Regions from separate parts of the Homo sapiens genome. Here regions 2, 3, 4, 5 and 6 are each reported to be linked to region 1. The links are microRNA targets in miRTarBase. Many come from high-throughput screens and were not tested one by one. Region 1 holds a microRNA gene; each other region holds the end of a gene's coding sequence.

Region 1 (3,155 bases):
TTTTTATCTCCCGAAAGCGAACATGACAAGGCTTTAACCCCCCACGGCAATCCGCCCTCACCCCTGTTCTCAGGATAGCCTTGGAACCCAATAGCAGAGCGCCTGAGGCCCTTCATGACCCCAGCCCACCCGCGAGCCCACCTCCCACCCTGCCCCTACCCCTCACACCTCCCGTGGCCAGCCTCCAGCCTCACGGTCTTTGCTCACACCGTTCACCCCCCTTCTTCTGGACCCACCTCATCGCCCCTTCCTAAGCATCAGCCCAATTCTTGCACATCCATCAAATCCTTGTCCAGACACCTCCTGGAACTCTTCCCTGCAGCCCCCTACAGCCATCCCCATCTCTCCGGGTACCCCGCAGCCCCAGGCCGAATCCCAATTCCTCTCCAATTAGCGACTGTTTGTCCTCCCAGCTGAGCGCGGCCTCCGCGCCCCGCCCCCGCTGGCGTCCGCAGAGCCCCCGGGTGGGGACGTCTGTCTCCAGACCCGGGGTTTTTCGGCTCCCCGGGGCCGTGCCAACCGCGGCTCCAGGCGTTCCTTATTTAGCAGGGCCGCTGTGCCGCGCCGGAGCCTCGCCCTGGGAGCGTCCTGGCCCGCGTCCTGCTTCCCGTCCCGGGCCAGGGAACGCGCCCACGCCCGCCCGTCCCGCGGCCTCTCCCGGGTGCCGCTGGGCCCGCTACTCACAGCGCTGTGGCGTCCGCGGGGATGCGCAGCGCGGGACCGAGCGTCCGCAGCCCGCGGCCCGCGGCCCGAGCAGTTGACGCGGCAGGCGGCGCCGGGCGCTAGGCCGCAGAGGCAGGGGGGCTCGCAAGGCCCGCAGCCGCGCCCGGGGCCCCCCGCCAGCGCCCCGAGCCACAGGCCCAGGCCCAGGGCCAGCGCCAGGCGGGCGGGCGCGGCGGGCGGCATCGTTAGGGCAGCGCGCGCATGGCCCCGCCGTCCCCAGGCCCGCCCGCGCGCGGAGGCCGCGGCTCAGGCGGGGCCGGCGGACGGCATGGCGGGCGCGGGGCTGGATGGGGCTGCGGCCGCGACCTGCTGCTGAGCGACGCCCGCTCGGGGCTCGGGGCCAGGCCGCTCCGGGAGCTCGGCCGCCCGCTCGGACGTTGGCGCTGCAGTGCGGGCCCCGCCGCGGCTCCTCCTCCTCCTCCCCGCGCGGCGCAGGGCGGACGGGGCGAGGGGGGGCGGGGCGGGTGCAGGCTCCGCCCCCTTCGCCACAGCGCGACCGGGCCAGCGATGAGGGACTGGCATCCGGAGGCTTCACCCTCCGCTCCACAGGGTCGGCAGCAGGGCGGGGCCTCCGGAAGCTCCGCCCCACGCTTTCCCGGGGCGCATGCGACGTGGGGCGGAGCGTCTGGAAGCTCCGCCCGTCGCACTGTAGAGTCGGCCGAGGCGCACGAGGTATTTTTCACGCTCCGCCCCTCTGCAGGCTAAAGTGCGTGGGCGGGAAGCGGTGGGCAGGGTGCCATCTGGCTCCGCCCTTCTCCTGTGGTGTGGGCCAGGCGGCGGCTTCCTCCTCCTGCAGCAGCCACAGGCTCCACTCTGATCCTTCTCCCGCGGCATGGATCCTTCTCCCGCGGCGTGGATCCTTCTCCCGCAATCTCCGTGCGCGTCCCCAGTCAGTACCCGCAGCCTCCCGACGCACCCGCTGGCTCCAAGCCTCCCTACCCCAGGTTTCCTGGCTAAGAGAGAGACAGAGGGAGAGAGGGGGAAGAGAGAGAACAGGCAATGGGAGGTTGATGGTGAGAGCTTATTGAAAGACAAGAGGGAGGAAACCCACATCCTTCATTCCCCATCCATTCATTTATTGCCTTATTTATTCCATTGAATCTTCACAGCTCTAGAAAAAGTGTGCTACAATTATTCCCTTTATTAAATGAGGTCACTGAGGCACAGTTTAAGAAATTTGCCAGCAGGGCACAGTGGGTCACTCCGGTAATCCCAGAACTTTGAGAGGGGGAGGAAGGTGGATCCCTTGAGCCCAGGAGTTGGAGACCAGCCTGGCCAACATGGCGAGACCCCGTTTCTACAAAAATTAGCCAAAATTAGCCAAACTGGCTCACACTTGTAGTCCCAGGTACTCGAGAGGCTGAGGCCGGAGGAGCGTGTGAGCCCAGGAGGCAGTGGCTGCGCTGAGCCGTGATTGTGCCACTGCACTCCAGCCTGGGCAACAGAGTAAGACCCTGTCTCGAAAAAAAAAAAATGGAAAAAAGAAAAAAAGAACTGGCTGGGAGTGGTGGCTCATGCCTGTAATCCCAGCACTTTGGGAGGCCGAGGTGGGTGGATCACCTGAGGTCAGGAGTTTGAGACCAACCTGACCAACAAGGTGAAATCCCATTTCTACTAAAAATACAAAAATTAGCCAGGCGTGGTGGCAGGTGCCTGTAGTCCCAGCTACTAGGGAGGCTGAGACAGGAGAATAGCTTGAACCTGGGAGGCAGAGGTTGCAGTGAGCCGAGATTGCACCACTGCACTCCAGACTGGGCAATACAGTGAGACTCCGTCTCAAAAAAACAAAAAAAATCCTACCACATGTGCTCCACCAAGCTCTGTCTCCAAGGTGGCCTTGGAAGCCACATGGGGAAGGTGGCAGAGACTCTAGGAGCCTGAGCAGAAATCCAGATGATTATGAAAAATGCAGACCTACCCATCCTTATTCACCTGGGACCACCGTGAACTATATCATAAGAAATAAACCCCTATTGTACATACATGCACCATTCGAGTTGGGTCTATTTGTTACAGCAGTTTAGCCAACCCTAATCCACATATACAGTGTCAACAGTGGCTGAGATGACATGTTGCACAGACATGAGAGTCAGAAAGACCTGAGTTCAAGTCCCAGTGATGACATTTACTATCTGTGTGACCTTGAAAAGCTGCCTAACTACTCTCAGACCGTTTCCTCATCAGTTTGTTTTGAGAGTCAAATGAGAAAATTACTAAAAAGCCCTTAGCACTGCATCTAAGATGGGGAAGAGACAGTCAATGAATTCAAGTTTCCTGAAGCCCAGTTGCATCCCTGCCCTGCCCTGGGCTCTGAGAGACAGTTGCCGAAGCTAGTGTTAAAGTGAACTAAATATGGCCTGAGTGGGACTTCGTACTTCTATAGTTGAGTCCTTGTGGACAAATTGCAACCTAGCTTAATAGGTAGACAAGAT
Region 2 (3,155 bases), not on the chromosome of region 1:
CTAAAGGGAGTATATGTGACAAAATGATGTAAAATAATGCTGGTTTTACAATAAAATTTTGTAAATCTTTGAAAAATACATCACTAAACTTTCTTTGAAAGTTACTTATATTGCCCAGAACTAAGTCATTAATTTTATGTAATTCTTATCTTTTTATTTTATGCACCAATTAAGAAATAAAACTAAGTTACATGGAGGATTCCACTTTACATTTATATTTTATAATTTATAAAACTGTCATATCTATATATAATAAGGTTGAGGAAGTGATACTGACATTAAAAAAATAACTTCCTGCTGCTGTGAAGAATAATACCAATCTCAATTTTGAAGTCAAATGCTAGTATTTTTTTTTTCTTTTCTAATCTTGGATCTAATATAGAGGAGGTAGATGAAGAGCAAGCAATGCACTTTTCTTCATGATAATACCATGACATTATTAAGCTTATTCCTTTCCCCTTTGAAAAAAAAATTAGAAAGGAAAATGTTGCAAAGAATATGAACAGCTTACTGTACTTGGTCAATGTAGCATTACAATTTGTTTTTTTTTTAATCCTCCGGGAAACTGGTACCACCTGTTCAACCTGAATTCAAGTAGTTACTGTCAATTTTCTCATGGGTGAATGCTGCCTCTTTGTGGCAGAATGCCATGGAAATTGTTCTTTAAACACAAAGTTCATGAACAGCCCTTGATATTGTACAAATTCCAGGTGAAACTATGGGGAGATCCACCTATAGCAATGAAGCACATAATTGAAACATTTCTTATCCTTAAATTGTGTCTAAACTCACTAGAAAACCTTATTCAAAGATGACGAGCTCATATACACCATTTTGAGCATTTAGAATACTGATCAACTTTAGATAAGGAATCCATCATAACTGTTGAAGGTAGTTTTACACAAATTAAAAATATGAAAACTATGGAAAACTGTAGACTGAATAAATAATACTGATATGACAATTACATTGTATTAAGAGAAAAGTGAATATGCGATATATTACTTACCATGCTCCACGTAGTAGATGAATACTTCAGTAAGGAAAGAGTGTATATAATTGAAACTGCATTAATAAACACATTAAGCGACACATTTAGAAAATCATACTTCCCTGAACCAACAAAGGAATAAATTACTTATATATGTCATGTATGTTATATATATATATACTATATATAGTATATATATACTATATACTATATATATACTATATACTATATATATACTATATATACTATATATATACATATATACTATATATACTATATATATACTATATATATACTATATACTATATATATACTATATACTATATATACTATATACTATATATATACTATATACTTTACAATTTTGCTAATTAGGGGAAACACATTTTGTATTAGGAATAAAGTTTAGGAACTATTTCCTAAATTGTTAATGATGGAGATTCTATCAATCACACATAGTTAAGTCTTTTGCACCTTAAGTAATCATTACTTCCATCCCTCATATTTGACATAGTTATCAAGTGTTTATTCAGAAACTATTTAAAAAATTACATGTGCTGGGATACATATGAGACTGTAACAACAGTAGCCCCATCTTACAGATATCCTGTTTGTCATTATCATCATTGCTTGCTGCCCACAGGGATAAAGACATTGTATAGAGACTTGTACAGTCCATGATTTGGTCTTCTGAGGTGCCAGTACACGTGGATCTGTACAAATGCAACTGGGTTTGGTTAAACAATCGAAAATCGGCTACAATAGTAGTCAAATGAACATGTCATTTTGGTTCATTAATAAAAATACTTTCAAATATTTTCTAATAAAACCCAAAACTTGCAAACAATTCTCTCGGAATGGCCCAATCAATTGCCCTATTTTTTAAAATACATTGGGATACAATCAGCTCTGTTTTCTTAAAAGAAAATGCAGATTCAATTGGGTGGGTTGCATTGGCTTTTAAAGATTTAGCCATTAAATTCTCCACATTTTGAATGATTGAAAATGCCTTCCTGATACCACGTCAGTTTTAGAAATGCAGATCCTAATACAGTGTGACACCTCTGCAAAATCATAGGCTAAATAGTGAAGGAAAGAGGAATGCTAAATGTGCATATAAAAATAGGTGCTACAATAAAATATTTGTATATTTCATCAATAAGTTATTTTGACTAATCAATTATGGATCATATAGCTCTGTAATTTTAATGATTTGTCCACATCTATGGTGATCCTTTACAGGATCACAATACTTTTTTTTTAATTCAAATGTCCAGAATGCATACAAACACATCCTTTAAAAACAAAGAAAAGGAATGAGAAGGGAGGGGAGGGGAGGAGAGAAGGAGAGGGGCGGAAAAAGAGAACAAATTTCCTATTAAAGTTGGGGTGTGCTAATTTCTCCACAAAAGCCAGTTAGACCCACCCATGGCTTAAAAGGGGAGAAAGAGAGGTGGGGCAGGGGCGGGGGAGGGGGAGGAAGCAAAAGAGGAAGAGTAGAATCTATGCTCTGCCATCATCCACCATTCTTAGCACTTCCAACCACTACAAAAATGACTGTGACCTTTCACAGGTCACCCGCGCAGCAAATTGGCCTCCTTAAAGCCCTTCTCCACACCTGCCCCACACGCAAGAAGAGAAAGTGATGTGCCCAGTTTACACAAATGTTTCCCACGTGTAAATTTTAAAGGAAATTGCACACCCTTTTCGTATCTTCCACCGAAGCTGAGAAATCCCGTGCCAAGGCACTTCACCCTAAACGTTGAAACAACACAATTAATCAAATGTGTTCACTGTGTGTGTCTGCTTGCTTGTTTGTTTTAAATGCAAAAGCTCCAAGAGAGTTTCTTTGCTTTTAGAACTGGCTAAACGTGGTCTGTTTTTCCAGCACTTCGAGGTAGTCCGGCTCAACGTTTAGTTTTGCTTTTAACTCCAGATATTCGTTCCGGTTGGGTTCTACAAAGACAGCACTCGGGGGGCTGTAGAGCACCGGTTCCCGTAGCCTGCTGTCCCCTGCCCCCGGGTGCAAATACTGATGGGGGCGTCTCAGGTCATAGTTGGGGGAGAAAGTGTAAGCAGCGGGGCTGCACGGGAATTTGGGATATTCCGGGAGGCTATTGCCGGCGGGGGTGGTGGAGCAGTGTTTGTCTGGTTCTAAAATGCC
Region 3 (3,155 bases), not on the chromosome of region 1:
CCACCACCAATCTGGTGGCCGGCTGTCTGCAGCTCAACTCTCGCAACTTCCTCACGGAGCAAGGCGCCGACGGTGCCGGCCGCTTCCACGGCTCGGGCGGCCCGTTCGCCATGCACCCCTACCCGTACCCGTGCTCGCGCCTGGCGGGCGCACAGTGCCAGGCGGCCGGCGGCCTGGGCGGCGGCGCGGCGCACGCCCTGCGGACCCACGGCTACTGCGCCGCCTACGAGACGCTGTATGCGGCGGCAGGCGGTGGCGGCGCGAGCCCGGACTACAACAGCTCCGAGTACGAGGGCCCGCTCAGCCCCCCGCTCTGTCTCAATGGCAACTTCTCACTCAAGCAGGACTCCTCGCCCGACCACGAGAAAAGCTACCACTACTCTATGCACTACTCGGCGCTGCCCGGTTCGCGGCCCACGGGCCACGGGCTAGTCTTCGGCTCGTCGGCTGTGCGCGGGGGCGTCCACTCGGAGAATCTCTTGTCTTACGATATGCACCTTCACCACGACCGGGGCCCCATGTACGAGGAGCTCAATGCGTTTTTTCATAACTGAGACTTCGCGCCGGCTCCCTTCTTTTTCTTTTGCCTTTGCCCGCCCCCCTGTCCCCAGCCCCCAGAGCGCAGGGACACCCCCATCCTACCCCGGCGCCGGGCGCGGGGAGCGGGCCACCGGTCCTGCCGCTCTCCTGGGGCAGCGCAGTCCTGTTACCTGTGGGTGGCCTGTCCCAGGGGCCTCGCTTCCCCCAGGGGACTCGCCTTCTCTCTCCCCAAGGGGTTCCCTCCTCCTCTCTCCCAAGGAGTGCTTCTCCAGGGACCTCTCTCCGGGGGCTCCCTGGAGGCACCCCTCCCCCATTCCCAATATCTTCGCTGAGGTTTCCTCCTCCCCCTCCTCCCTGCAGGCCCAAGGCGTTGGTAAGGGGGCAGCTGAGCAATGGAACGCGTTTCCCCCTCTCATTATTATTTTAAAAACAGACACCCAGCTGCCGAGGCAAAAAGGAGCCAGGCGCTCCCTCTTTCTTGAAGAGGGTAGAAGTTAGGGCGCCGGAGCCCGGGCCTGGAACGCCCTCACCCCCAACCTCCAGTCTCCGCGTTTTGCGATTTTAATTTTGGCGGGAGGGGAAGTGGATTGAGAGGAAAGAGAGAGGCCAAGACAATTTGTAACTAGAATCCGTTTTTCCCTTTTCCTTTTTTTAAACAAACAAACATACAAAAAAAAAAAAAAAAAAAAAAAAAAAAAAAAAAAAAAAAGCTAAGAGGCGACGGAAGCCGAACGCAGAGTCCGGATCGGAGAGAAAACGCAGTAAGGACTTTTAGAAGCAATAAAAGGCAAAAAAAACAAAAAACAAAAAAACAAACAAAAAAAAACCACTACTACCAATAATCAAAGACACAAATATCTATGCAAGGAGGCTCCACTGAGCCTCGCGGCCCGGCCCGGCCCCGGGATGCCCCGCCCGGCCTGCGGGCCGCCCCGCCCGAGCGCGGATCTGTGCACTTTGGTGAAGTGGGGGCCCGCGCCGCCCCCTCCCCCTCCCCAGGTTCTTACAATCAGTGACTCGGAGATTTGGGGCCCCAGTGCCACTGCCCTCCCCCGCCCCGTCCCCGTTGTGCGTCATGCTGTTTTTTAAAAACCTGTTTCCAAATTTGTATGGAATGGCAAACTGTTGGGGGGTCGGTTTGGGGAGGGAGGGTTTGCATGAAAGACACACGCACACCACACCGCACGCACAAGCAGGCCCGGCGCCGGCGTCCGGGGGGCAGAAGGAGGTGAGCTCGCCGGCTCCTCCTCCCCGCGGCCATTCTGTCCCCTCCTGGGGTGAGGGGTGGGGATGGAGACCTGGGGGCAGCCCCACCCCTGCCCGGACTGTGCCTCGGTGGGTGCCACCTGGCGATTTCCGGTGTCTGGAGAGAGTATTTTTTGGTCCAAGGAGTCCTCTTGGCTTTAGCTGGTGGGTGGGCGGGGAGAGGTCTGAGGGCTCCTACTGGAGGTTCCCCCAAAAAGGGGCAAAAGGAGACCCTCTGCCCACCGGAGGCAGGGGATCAGGCATCCAAATACACGATGCAAAAATGCAATCCCACAGGCGACACACCCACACACTCACCCACACACACGCAATTTTACCTTCCTCTTGTAGCGAAGATGAAACTCCCGTCGGACACCCGAAGTGCATTGCGTGTTTCTGTTCAGTTTAATGACGATTAATAAATATTTATGTAAATGAGATGCAAAGCCGGACCGGTTTCTCACGGTGGCCTCATTTCATTGAGGGGGGAGAGAAGGTTTGAGCTGGGGCTGGGGTGATGAAGGCAGAGTGTCAAGTGACTGTGCAGAGGCCAAACAGAGGGACCCTGGACATTCTTGGGTAGTATTCTCTCCCTAACCACCCCCCATACACCCACTGGGCTATACTAGCTACCCCTCCCAGACCCAACCCAGGCTCGCACCTTCCCAGCACTAAAGCACTGATATCCTTACACTTCTTCATTCCTGAACATGCACAGGCACCTCCCTTGAAAACAAAATACCTTTTCATCACTGAAAAATGATCAAGTTGGGAACAGCCAGTCATTTTACAACTCTCTGCCCACTGTTGCAAAAAGCAAGTGGGCAGAGACAAAGAGACAACCATTTGAATCAGACAGGGGTATTTTTAAACAAAACAAAACAAAACAAAACAAAACATTATAAGGTCATGAAGATGAAATATTAATGAGGGAGGCCCCTTTTTCATCTTAAAATTGTATTTCGGTGGACTCAGGGGAATCGGCCATTTTGGTCTCAGGAATGTTGACATGTTTAGGGGTGTGGACAAGGTTGGAGGAACACCCCTAGAGGTCTGTGAGGTGGCTGAGTCTGGGCGCCCACCCAGTAGAGAGGAGCCTAACCATGTACTCCCTGGGACAGGGCAGCAGGCGCCCACCCAGTCCAAATCTGGGCTGATTTCTTCCTGTCTGGTACAGTTCTGAACAGAGGGAACCCTAAGGGCTTAGAAGGGAGGAAGGGCACTGGGTGAGCATCTCCTGCTCAGACAATGTGGCCTCACAATTCTTTTTTCTCTGAACCTGAGAGGCAGGGGCAGCTCTTAACTGACTTCCCTGATAGAGTCCCTCCTACTCCCCCTGCTCAGCCCTCAGTGCATGCTGTAGCCCTAGA
Region 4 (3,000 bases), not on the chromosome of region 1:
TATAGAAAGGTATAAAGCAAAAAGTAAGAATTCCCTTCACTCCATCTTCTCCTCAGATATTGGTGAATCTCCTCCCAAACTTTCAACCACATAGATGCATTTTTGTTTTCAAACCAGAAAGCCATTAACACTAACTCTTTAAAGGCTGCGGCTGAATTGGCGAGATGAAGAATTATGTAGATTAAGGCTGCTGTCTCCCTATAGAATTTTTTGAGGGATTCCACCTTTTTTTAAAGCACATCCTTCCTGTTCCACACACTGAATCTGCCTGGTTTGTCTCAACTTGCTTTTAACTATTAGGCCTGTTTGGCAGAGGCAATATAAATTTTTAAAAATGTAAGATGTTTAAAATGCCATTAGCCTTTAGCACCTGGAATTTGAGGCAGAAAGGTATGAGTTAGGCAACCTTTCTTGCCATAATCCCAGTTTTGACAAGCCTCAAACACAATGTACAATATTTAAGACACAAATTCATTAGGTATGGGCTCAGGACAGCTTGCTCTTATTTAATACTTGCGTGCTTGTGGTTTTGCACAATGGATGGGTATTAGAGTTTGCCTTGGATACTTGGCATTGATTAGACTGTTCTGAAATTTGGTTATGCTTAGTCAAAAAATTCTGTTTATTGTTCTTCAGCAAGAATAGATGTAACCACTTTAAAAATAGTTACATTGTTTTCCAGATTAAGTAAATATTTCAGTTAGGAGAATACATATTTTTATTTTTATTTTCAGTTTTTGAGATGGAGTCTCACTCTGTCACCCAGGCTGGAGTGCAGTGGTGTAATCTCAGCTCACTGCAACCTCTGCCTCCCAGGTTCAAGTGATTCTCCTGCCTCAGCCTCCCGAGTAGCTGGGATTACAGGCAAATGCCACCATGCCTGGCTAATTTTTGTATTTTTAGTAGAGACGGGGTTTCACCATGTTGGCCAGGCTGGTCTCAAACTCCTGACCTCAAAAGATCCGCCCATCTCGGCCTGCCAAAGTGCTGGGATTACAGGCGTGAGCCACTGCAACCGGCCAGAGTACATATTTTAAAATTTGGAATGAGGATAGCTCTTGTTTTAGAACATGCACTTTAGTGAACTGAACCTTGGACTGATGGTTACAAGGAGTATGTAATGAGCTTTCAGGCTATGAGTCCTAAATCCTGACCCTGTCCTAAAAGAGAAAGGAAATTTCCAAAGTCTTCATCGTAGCAACGACACCCACTGAAATAGAAAAGTGGTGGAGTGAGGAATGGATGCTTGCCTTTGTTCTTGGCCTATTATTAGTGAATCCCAAGATAGCAGGCTTCCTGAAGATTGTTGTAGAGGTTTTCAGTGTTTTCAAGGATCCCCTTTTCAGCTTAAAAATAATGAATGCCTTTCACCTGACTACAGTTATCTTTCACCTATTCAATATAGAGATAATGAATGATGCCTATAGCATACCTTCATCTATGTTAATAACTGTATTGTCTTTGATGGGTATACAACTCAGATAGATTTGGAATTACTAACTTAAGGTACAATTTCTCCTTAATGTTGTCTCGGGCTTTGGCAAAATTTAGTTTAAAGGATATGAGTAGTGCTTTAAAAAATATTCCCTCCACAGTCTCCATGCCACCTTTAATAACAGAGTCATTCTCTTCTTCCTTAAATATCCTTATCAGACCTTCTAAAAGGAAGCTGTTATTAATGAAAGCCAAAAGCAGCTTGTAAGAGGAGAAATTATGCAGTGACGGGGGGCGGGGGGACAACCCTGAACAAATATTTTCTCTTCATAATTGGAAGTGGAAGAGAAAAAGTGAACAGGGGATAGAAATAAACCAATAAAATATGTAAACCAATAAATATGTAAACAGTTTTGCAGAGGCTGATTTATATTTTAGCAAGTCTCTCTATCGGCTATGATCCCCAAGTTTTCTTTTTAGAGAAACTATGATGCTGATAATAGCAGTTTTTACGCAAAAGATATTAATATTCAATGATATTTGGTAATGCTTGTTCAAATACAGGTTGAACATTCCTCATACAAAAATCTAAAATCTGAAATACCCCAAAATCCAAAACTTTTTGAGTGCTGACACCACCACTTGGGTCGCTAAGATAGTGACACCTTTGCTTTCTGACAGTTCAATGTATACAAACTTTGTTTCATGCACAAATTATTAAAAATATTATATAAAATTACCTTCAGGGTATGTGAACAAGGTATATATAAAATATAAATGAATTTTGTGTTTAGACTTGGATCTCATCCCCAAGATACCTCATTATGTACATGCAAATATTCCCAAATCTTAAAAAATCTGAAGCCTGAAACACTCCTGGTCCTAAGCATTTCAGATGAGGGATACTCAACCAGTACTGCTATATCCATCTACATATATAAAGCCACCGGGAGAACTAGTCCACTTGGTGCAGTCTTCTATACTGTCCTTCACAGCTTAGATTCAATCTTTCCTTAAAGTGTAGCCGGGATACACAGGAGTGTGATTCTGGGCTGACTCAAAGTTCTTCTCTTGAAGGCTTTTTCCTGTGGCACTGGCAGATGGCTGTGCTATCTTCTGGCTGAGGAACAAGTTCCATTCCATCACGTACTTCGGGTTTGCTGGACTGGCGCTCGGCATATTTCTGAAACGTGGGTTTAAAGGGAACTGAAAGGTTAGTTCACACTGCATTCTGTTGACTCCCCCACCCACTCCCATCCGCAGTCACGCCATCTTTTCTAGTTGCTGTGTGTCTGCAGACTAAAACCAAAGGTCTGGTTTATTCCAGTCCTAAAGTTACATTTTAACTTTAGCTATCACAGGCACTAGTTATAATTCATAATCTAGCAAGAAACCCCAATCCACAATTTTATGTGTTGGTTGGAAGCCTCTACAAAAGGGATGCCAAGCCAGACGTCCCTACCTGAAACAAACAGCAGCTCTCAGCATTTATTTTCCACTTGTTATTGAATAATTAACTTTGTTGAATACTCAAGCCAGCAAACAAACAAGATAACCATCTGAAAA
Region 5 (3,155 bases), not on the chromosome of region 1:
GGCTGTGGGGTGTAGGTCTTATTCTTAAGTCCTTCACTAGCCTAGTTGACCCTGAGGGCTCATGGGTTTGGATAGGTTGTTTAGCATTTTTCAAACTTCCAAAGCCCATGGATGACCATAAAATCAAAATGGACTTTATTGTAGATAAAAAGGAAAGAGGAGAATAAAAATCATTCAACTGTATTTTTTTTTTTTTTTTGAGGCAGGGTCTCATTCTGTTGCCCAGACTGGATTGCAGTGGCATGATCTCAGCTCATCGCAACCTCTGCCTCTTGGGCTCAAGCAATCCTCCCACCTCAGCCTCCCAAGTAGCTAGAACTACAGGCATGTGCCATCATGCCTGGCTCATTTTTGTATTTCTGTAGAGACAGGGTTTTGCCATGTTGCCCAGTCTGGTCTTGAACTCCTGAGCTCAAGTGATCCTCCTGCCTCAGCCTCCCAAAGTGTTGGGATTACAGGCATAAGCCACTGTGCCCGGTCTCAATTTTATTTTATTGAACCATATGAAATTGCCACTCCTGTTTTTACAAAATGGTCGAATATCAGCAAACTCATATGGCTCAACCTAATTAAATACGTATTTTCCTGATTTGCACAAATTATCAATTCAAACACAAAGTTGTGAAGCAATGTCTTATTTAAAAATTAAGCATTAAACATGCGAATTGAGAAGATTAAATGACTGATTTCACTACGGGTGGACTAGACTGGGACACAATATTTTGTCTTCCATCATAAGAAAAACTGGCCAGTATGGTGAAACCCCGTCTCTACTAAAAAATACAAAAAATTAGCCAGGCGTGGTGGCGCGTGCCTGTAATCCCAGCTACTCAGGAGGCGGAGGCAAGAGAATCGCTTGAACCCGGGAGGCGGAGGTTGCAGTAAGCCGAGATCGCGCCACTGCACTCCAGCCTGGGTGACACAGCGAGACTCCATCTCAAAAAAAAAAAAAAAAAGGAAAGAAAGAAAAAAAGAAAAGCCCACGTTATTGAAAGCATTTTTTAGAAATTGGGTTGCCAAAAATAAGCTAGCACTGAAGCACAGAGACATTAAGAGAAACTCAAACTTTTCCCGAGAGGTCTTTCTGTATTTCAGCACTACAGGTGTGGGCAGACAGAACAGCTCATCCAGAAAGAATCCAAACTGAAAACCTAACTTTCAAATCACACCCACATGTTAAGCTGGTGCAGCAGCCTCCCCAGATACAAGGAAAATGACCCTTCTCTGCATGGCACTCAGTGGTGTAAAGACACTCGGACTCTTAAGCTTATAGAAGACAGAGCTTTCTAGTGGGCTGAAAATACTTAATGTTCCATTGTTTGCCCTCTGATTCCTCAGGTGGCCACTGAAATCTCATGCATTCGTCGGCTCAAAGTTTGGAATTCTACCTAGTCTTGAGACTACTATCTTGTATTTCTTTGCAGTAATTTTTTTGCATTGAGATTTCTTTCCCTCTGAATTCTAGCCTGGTGCCTTGTAGGTTTCTTGCTGCCTTCCCTTTCCCAGATAATAGCATCCTACAAAATTTGGTGTTATTTCTAAACCCAGAGTAGATACTTCAGTCCTAGTGATTATTTCCCTAGGCTGTCAGCTCATATGGTAGCCCTCAAAAGTTGAATGCTGGCCAGGTGCAGTGGCTCACACCTGTAATCCCAGCACTTTGGGAGGCCAAGGGAGGTGGATCACGAGGTCAGGAGTTTGACACCAGCCTGGGCAACATGGTGAAACCCCATCTCTACCAAAAATACAAAAAATTAGCTGGGCATGGTGGTGGGCACCTGTAATCCCAGCTAATCAGGAGGCTGAGGCAGGAGAATCACTTGAACCCGTGAGGCAGAGGTTGCAGTGAGCCAAGACCACGCCACTGCACTCCAGCCTGGGTGACAGAGTGAAACACCATCTCAACAAAAAAAAAAAGTTGAATGCTTTTTGCAGTGATACCATCATCAGTTTCTAAATACCTCCTTTCCTCAGATTAATCAAAAAATAAGAGTATAACACTATTTGCCTTTGGTTTTAAACATTTCATAACTACTTCTTTATGGATATAGCCAGAGAAGGAACTATAATTCTTCGTTCCATGTTGAAATGTTCGTGGATGTATTTTCAAATCTTCAGTCTAGAAAAAACACAGGCAGCATAAAGTCAGGAATCCTGATATGAGGTTGCAGTCAAGCAGACTTCGTTGCCAGAGCCTCCAAATTGCTTTTTCATGTTTTCTGTCCCATTTAACACCAAGTTTCCCATAATCCTTGGAGTTCCGATCTCAATTGCCTTCCTTCTCTTTAACTTGATAATTCTATGGTCAGCTTGACTTGCACTGCTGTGTACTGAGATGCAGCCTCTCATGGGAGGAATCCCCCCACCCAGCACCTGCCTCGCCTTGTTCAGATACTGCAGGTGAATGAATTAGGAGACCATTAAAGCATGCTATTTTTTTTTGTTTGTTTAACTCTGAAACAGCGCACTACTATGTGAAAAAAGTGGGAATAGGTCTACGTTTGTCTGAATTTAGAGACACTTTTGCCTCACCATCTGCATTGTGAGTTAAATTTTAAGTGTTACAATAGCTTCAGACCCCAATAAAATAGAAGAGTTAGTTCAATCTAGTCACTGCCCCACCTCCAACAACACTAGGGCTTGCAGCTGTCCTCACCCCATCGGGAGCCTACCCCATCGCGCCAGGGCTTGGGGGGAAAGTCAAGCATTATCTTCCAGGGGAAACACTAGGCGGGTGCCCCGGCTCGAAACCTTCTGGTCTCCCATTCCCAGGTCTCGCTCCAGCACTTCCTCCGAGCTGCTCTTCGTTCTCCGGCTGCCCTCCAGACTCGTGGAGGCGGTGTGCGAACTTGAGGAGCCATTTGCAGTCACTGTGCTGTCCCCGTAGGTCAATGTCAGGTCGCCTTCGGTCAGGATGAAATCAGAGTCTTCCTCTCTCAGTGGCTCTTGGTTCTGAAAAGTGCAACCAACAACAACAACAAAAATGAGAGACTGATATCTTCCAGGTTTGGCACCAACCCCAATCCCAATCCCAACTCCTCATCTGAAAACTGGGGACTATGAAACTTGCCTGCCTTGAGCCTCTAGCGTGGTAACTGGATGTAAACTGTAGAGGGCCGGGCACGGTTGCCAGGACTAGGACTTAGAATACTAGA
Region 6 (3,000 bases), not on the chromosome of region 1:
GTTCTCATCCCTGTGGAAGGAAATGGGCCTCTTCTGGCATCTCATGCTACTCTGTGCTTTTCCTTGGGCTCCAAATTCTAGCTCATAAAGATGCAAGTTTTGCAATTTCCTATAAATGGTTAAGAAAAGAGCAAGCTGTCCAGAGAGTGAGAAGTTTGAAAAGAGAGGTGCATAAGAGAGAAATGATGTCCATTTGAGCCCCACCACGGAGGTTATGTGGTCCCAAAAGGAATGATGGCCAAGCAATTAATTTTTCCTCCTAGTTCTTAGCTTGCTTCTGCATTGATTGGCTTTACACAACTGGCATTTAGTCTGCATTACACAAATAGACACTAATTTATTTGGAACAAGCAGCAAAATGAGAACTTTATTTGGTGCAGTCAGGGCTCCATTTAGTTCCCTCACTCTGCTTCTAATCACCCCTTCTCCCAGCCCTCTTCTATTTGATAGAGGTCTGTCCCTCAGATCAGCAATGTCTTAGCCCCTCTCCTCTCTTCCATTCCTTCCTGTTGGTACTCATTTCTTCTAACTTTTAATAAACATTTAGGTATAATACATTACAGTAAGTGCTATTTAGATACAAACTTAAAACATACTATATATTTTAAGGATCTAAGAATCCTTTAGAGAAGGCACATGACTGAAGTACCTCAGCTGCGCAGCCTGTAGCCAGTTTTTTTAATGTAAAAGTAAGAATGCCAGCCTTAACCTAGCCCTGCAGATAAAAGCTAACTTTTATTAATACCAGCCCTGAATAATGGCACTAATCCACACTCTTCCTTAGAGTGATGCTGGAAAAATAAAATCAGGGGCTTCAGATTAAAAAAAAAAACAAAAAACAAAAAACAAAAACAAACATTGCCTGGCCCTGAGGGTCTGTTTGCAAAACTTCTTGTAGATCTAATTTCTGAACACTCACTGCTTCATTTCTATTCCTCCTGTTGCAGGGAGTAATTTCTTCTCCTTTGTCTCACTTCCCTTATCAAGAACACCAACCAGTAAGTCTTTGCCAAATTCTCAGACCCACTCAGGACACGAGTCTCTACATGGCTTAACAGAAGAGAGATAATTAGGATTTTTTTTTCCTCAGTCTTTCTGAGGTTTTTATTTAAATGCACTCAGTGGTCATAGGGCAGAAGCTCAAGCTAGCTGGGGCGAAGGGAGGACGCCAGGGAGAGTATGTTTCTCATCCCTGGGAGGCATTCAGCCTAGCTCCTGCAGCCAAATTACAGCACCAGAGAACAATGTGATGCATTCCTGGGCAGGTCGGTGGGACCCTGGGCGCCTGGGCCTTGTGGAGAGAGGTGCCAGACACAGAGTTCTCCGTAAGCAATCCTGCAGAGCCGCCCCCTGGGTGCAGAAATGAAATACGGGAGAGCTTCACATTACACAGAGACCTGTAGCTCACACCTGGTTATTGATGGCCTTGGTGGAGGCCTCTGCCCCGACCCTCCACTTGGGAACTGCCTGCTACTACGGGGGTTGGGCATCTTTGAAGCAATGTTGGATAACAAGAAAGAGATGCTTCCTTTTCACTCTTTGCCCTCCCTGTCAGCCTGAGCACAACCATGAGGTTACACACACACACACAGAGGTGTACATATACAGACACATAGAGAACTTCTCTCAGGCTGCATAGGAGTTCTGCTCATCCTCCTCTCCCCAACAATTAAAAAAAAAAGCAATTAGATTTCGATCCAGTACTTCAAAAAGGATACCAATAGGGTCTGGCTTTAATCAAGGAATATCTACAAAGTCACATTACCAACCTGCAGGCAACTCTTTGGTTTGGGGACCAGAACTCCTCTGGTGGGTGGTTGGGGGAAGGATGCAGGAAGGGCATGGTGAGGAGAGATCAGTGGTGAAGAATTACCATCAAAGCAGAGTGGCTGAGACTGTATAAGTTCGCAAGGCTGGTTCATGCCAGAGATAGTGAGATGTGCACCCTATGTGCTGAGAATGATGGAGCAGTCTCCTATGACTGCATGGGGTATAACTGCCAAGCCTACTGCTCATGACCTGTGGTTGTTTTTAACTCTTAACTGGGTTAGAAAACTGGAGAGCTTTGGATTCCAGGGATGATCTCCATAAGAGAGAAGCACTGGAAAAGACCAAGTGGTGGCTTTATTAGGGTAAATATATCACAGTTGCTACAGTGAATTGAGCTTTCTCAGAAGCTATTATTTTCTTTGGGTGATTGGCAGGTATAGGGCAATAGCCAGTGGGGTGTCAGTAATATGCCCTGTCCCTGACCTCAAAGGTAAAGGGATAGAAAAGAGAGGGCGTTGACAAACTCATTTTCCCACTTCCCACTCATGGCTTATATTATCTCTGAGCATCTCGGTGGCTATTCCTCATTTACTTAAGATGTTTTAGTCATTCTGGATGTGCAAATGCAAGGCAAGCATTCTCCCACTGGCCCCCTAACGGTTAACTATCCTGGCTTAAAATTTTCCTTTGCTCACTTCCATTCTATGAGTATATCGATGGAGCAGCTGGACATTAGAGTTCTTTCTCTTTGACCAAAGGAGCCAAAATGCGGTGACTTGACTTCAACCCCAACAGCCCCTGTAAGTAGCCCTGGCCAAACAGAAAGGCTAAGCTGAATGAAGAAAAAAGGAAGACAATTTCATCTACAGTTGTCCTTTTTGACAGCTTCCAAGGGGGGTTTGCCTAGGAATAACAATATTCATAAGAAGCTTTTTCATATGCAAAATGCTTTAGCATATATGTAATCCTCACAACAACCCTGTGAGGTAGGGGTTACTGTCACTTTACAGATGCTGTTCAGAAAAATTTGGTGATTTGTCCAAGGTCACATGAACAGTGCGTGGCTCAGCCAGAACTCAAACCTAGGTCTTCTGACTTCAAATCCTGTGTATTCTCCTCAAAGCCTGAGGATGCCCAGGGTTGGGGGCACCAGAGTCCCAGCACCTTCAAAACAGAAATTGATACAAAATGTTCAAGCCCTGTAGGAGTCCCAGGACAGCCAAGAGAGTA

What was found. Region 1 holds the annotated microRNA hsa-miR-3180-3p (UGGGGCGGAGCUUCCGGAGGCC, at 1,290-1,311, opposite strand). A microRNA usually pairs through its seed, bases 2 to 8, with sites in the 3' UTR of a target mRNA and lowers its output. Matches are read on the target gene's strand: a 7mer-m8 pairs with bases 2 to 8, a 7mer-A1 pairs with bases 2 to 7 and ends in A, and an 8mer does both.
Region 2: the mRNA of SLITRK5 is a reported target of hsa-miR-3180-3p. Seed matches in the 3' UTR shown: 7mer-m8 at 2,453-2,459 and 7mer-m8 at 2,342-2,348.
Region 3: miRTarBase lists NEUROD2 as a target of hsa-miR-3180-3p. Seed matches in the 3' UTR shown: 7mer-m8 at 594-600, 7mer-m8 at 1,468-1,474, 7mer-m8 at 1,519-1,525 and 7mer-m8 at 1,593-1,599.
Region 4: the mRNA of POGLUT3 is a reported target of hsa-miR-3180-3p. Seed matches in the 3' UTR shown: 7mer-m8 at 1,726-1,732.
Region 5: miRTarBase lists SLC9A7 as a target of hsa-miR-3180-3p. The part of its 3' UTR that is shown has no 7-base or 8-base seed match.
Region 6: the mRNA of ST7L is a reported target of hsa-miR-3180-3p. Seed matches in the 3' UTR shown: 7mer-A1 at 1,151-1,157.

Annotation. Positions count from the first base shown.
Region 1 is chr16:16,308,092-16,311,246 of GRCh38, reverse strand. It overlaps MIR3180-2 (microRNA 3180-2), which reads right to left and starts at 1,368; the gene lies at 1,281-1,368. The region is part of intron 1 of LOC105371099 (a long non-coding RNA gene); the gene reads left to right. It also overlaps the pseudogene LOC131696449 and the pseudogene PKD1P1.
Region 2 is chr13:87,677,957-87,681,111 of GRCh38, reverse strand. SLITRK5 (SLIT and NTRK like family member 5) reads right to left here. Exons shown (of 2, transcript NM_001384609.1): 2 at 1,496-3,155. The coding sequence ends at 2,847. LOC112268106 (a long non-coding RNA gene) reads right to left here and starts at 1,172. Exons shown (of 3, transcript XR_002957486.2): 1 at 1,010-1,172.
Region 3 is chr17:39,602,850-39,606,004 of GRCh38, reverse strand. It overlaps NEUROD2 (neuronal differentiation 2), which reads left to right. Exons shown (of 2, transcript NM_006160.4): 2 at 1-2,237. The coding sequence ends at 554. Among named protein-coding and RNA genes, the nearest start is that of NEUROD2, 3.5 kb to the left of the region's middle.
Region 4 is chr11:108,472,336-108,475,335 of GRCh38, forward strand. It overlaps POGLUT3 (protein O-glucosyltransferase 3), which reads right to left. Exons shown (of 8, transcript NM_153705.5): 8 at 1-2,617. The coding sequence ends at 2,492. Among named protein-coding and RNA genes, the nearest start is that of C11orf65, 6.3 kb to the left of the region's middle. RefSeq lists an enhancer at 1,130-1,274 and a cis regulatory region at 1,202.
Region 5 is chrX:46,604,252-46,607,406 of GRCh38, forward strand. SLC9A7 (solute carrier family 9 member A7) reads right to left here. Exons shown (of 17, transcript NM_001257291.2): 17 at 1-2,952. The coding sequence ends at 2,701. Among named protein-coding and RNA genes, the nearest start is that of CHST7, 32 kb to the left of the region's middle.
Region 6 is chr1:112,523,178-112,526,177 of GRCh38, forward strand. ST7L (suppression of tumorigenicity 7 like) reads right to left here. Exons shown (of 15, transcript NM_017744.5): 15 at 337-2,934. The coding sequence ends at 2,836. It overlaps WNT2B (Wnt family member 2B), which reads left to right. Exons shown (of 5, transcript NM_024494.3): 5 at 1-3,000. Among named protein-coding and RNA genes, the nearest start is that of WNT2B, 16 kb to the left of the region's middle.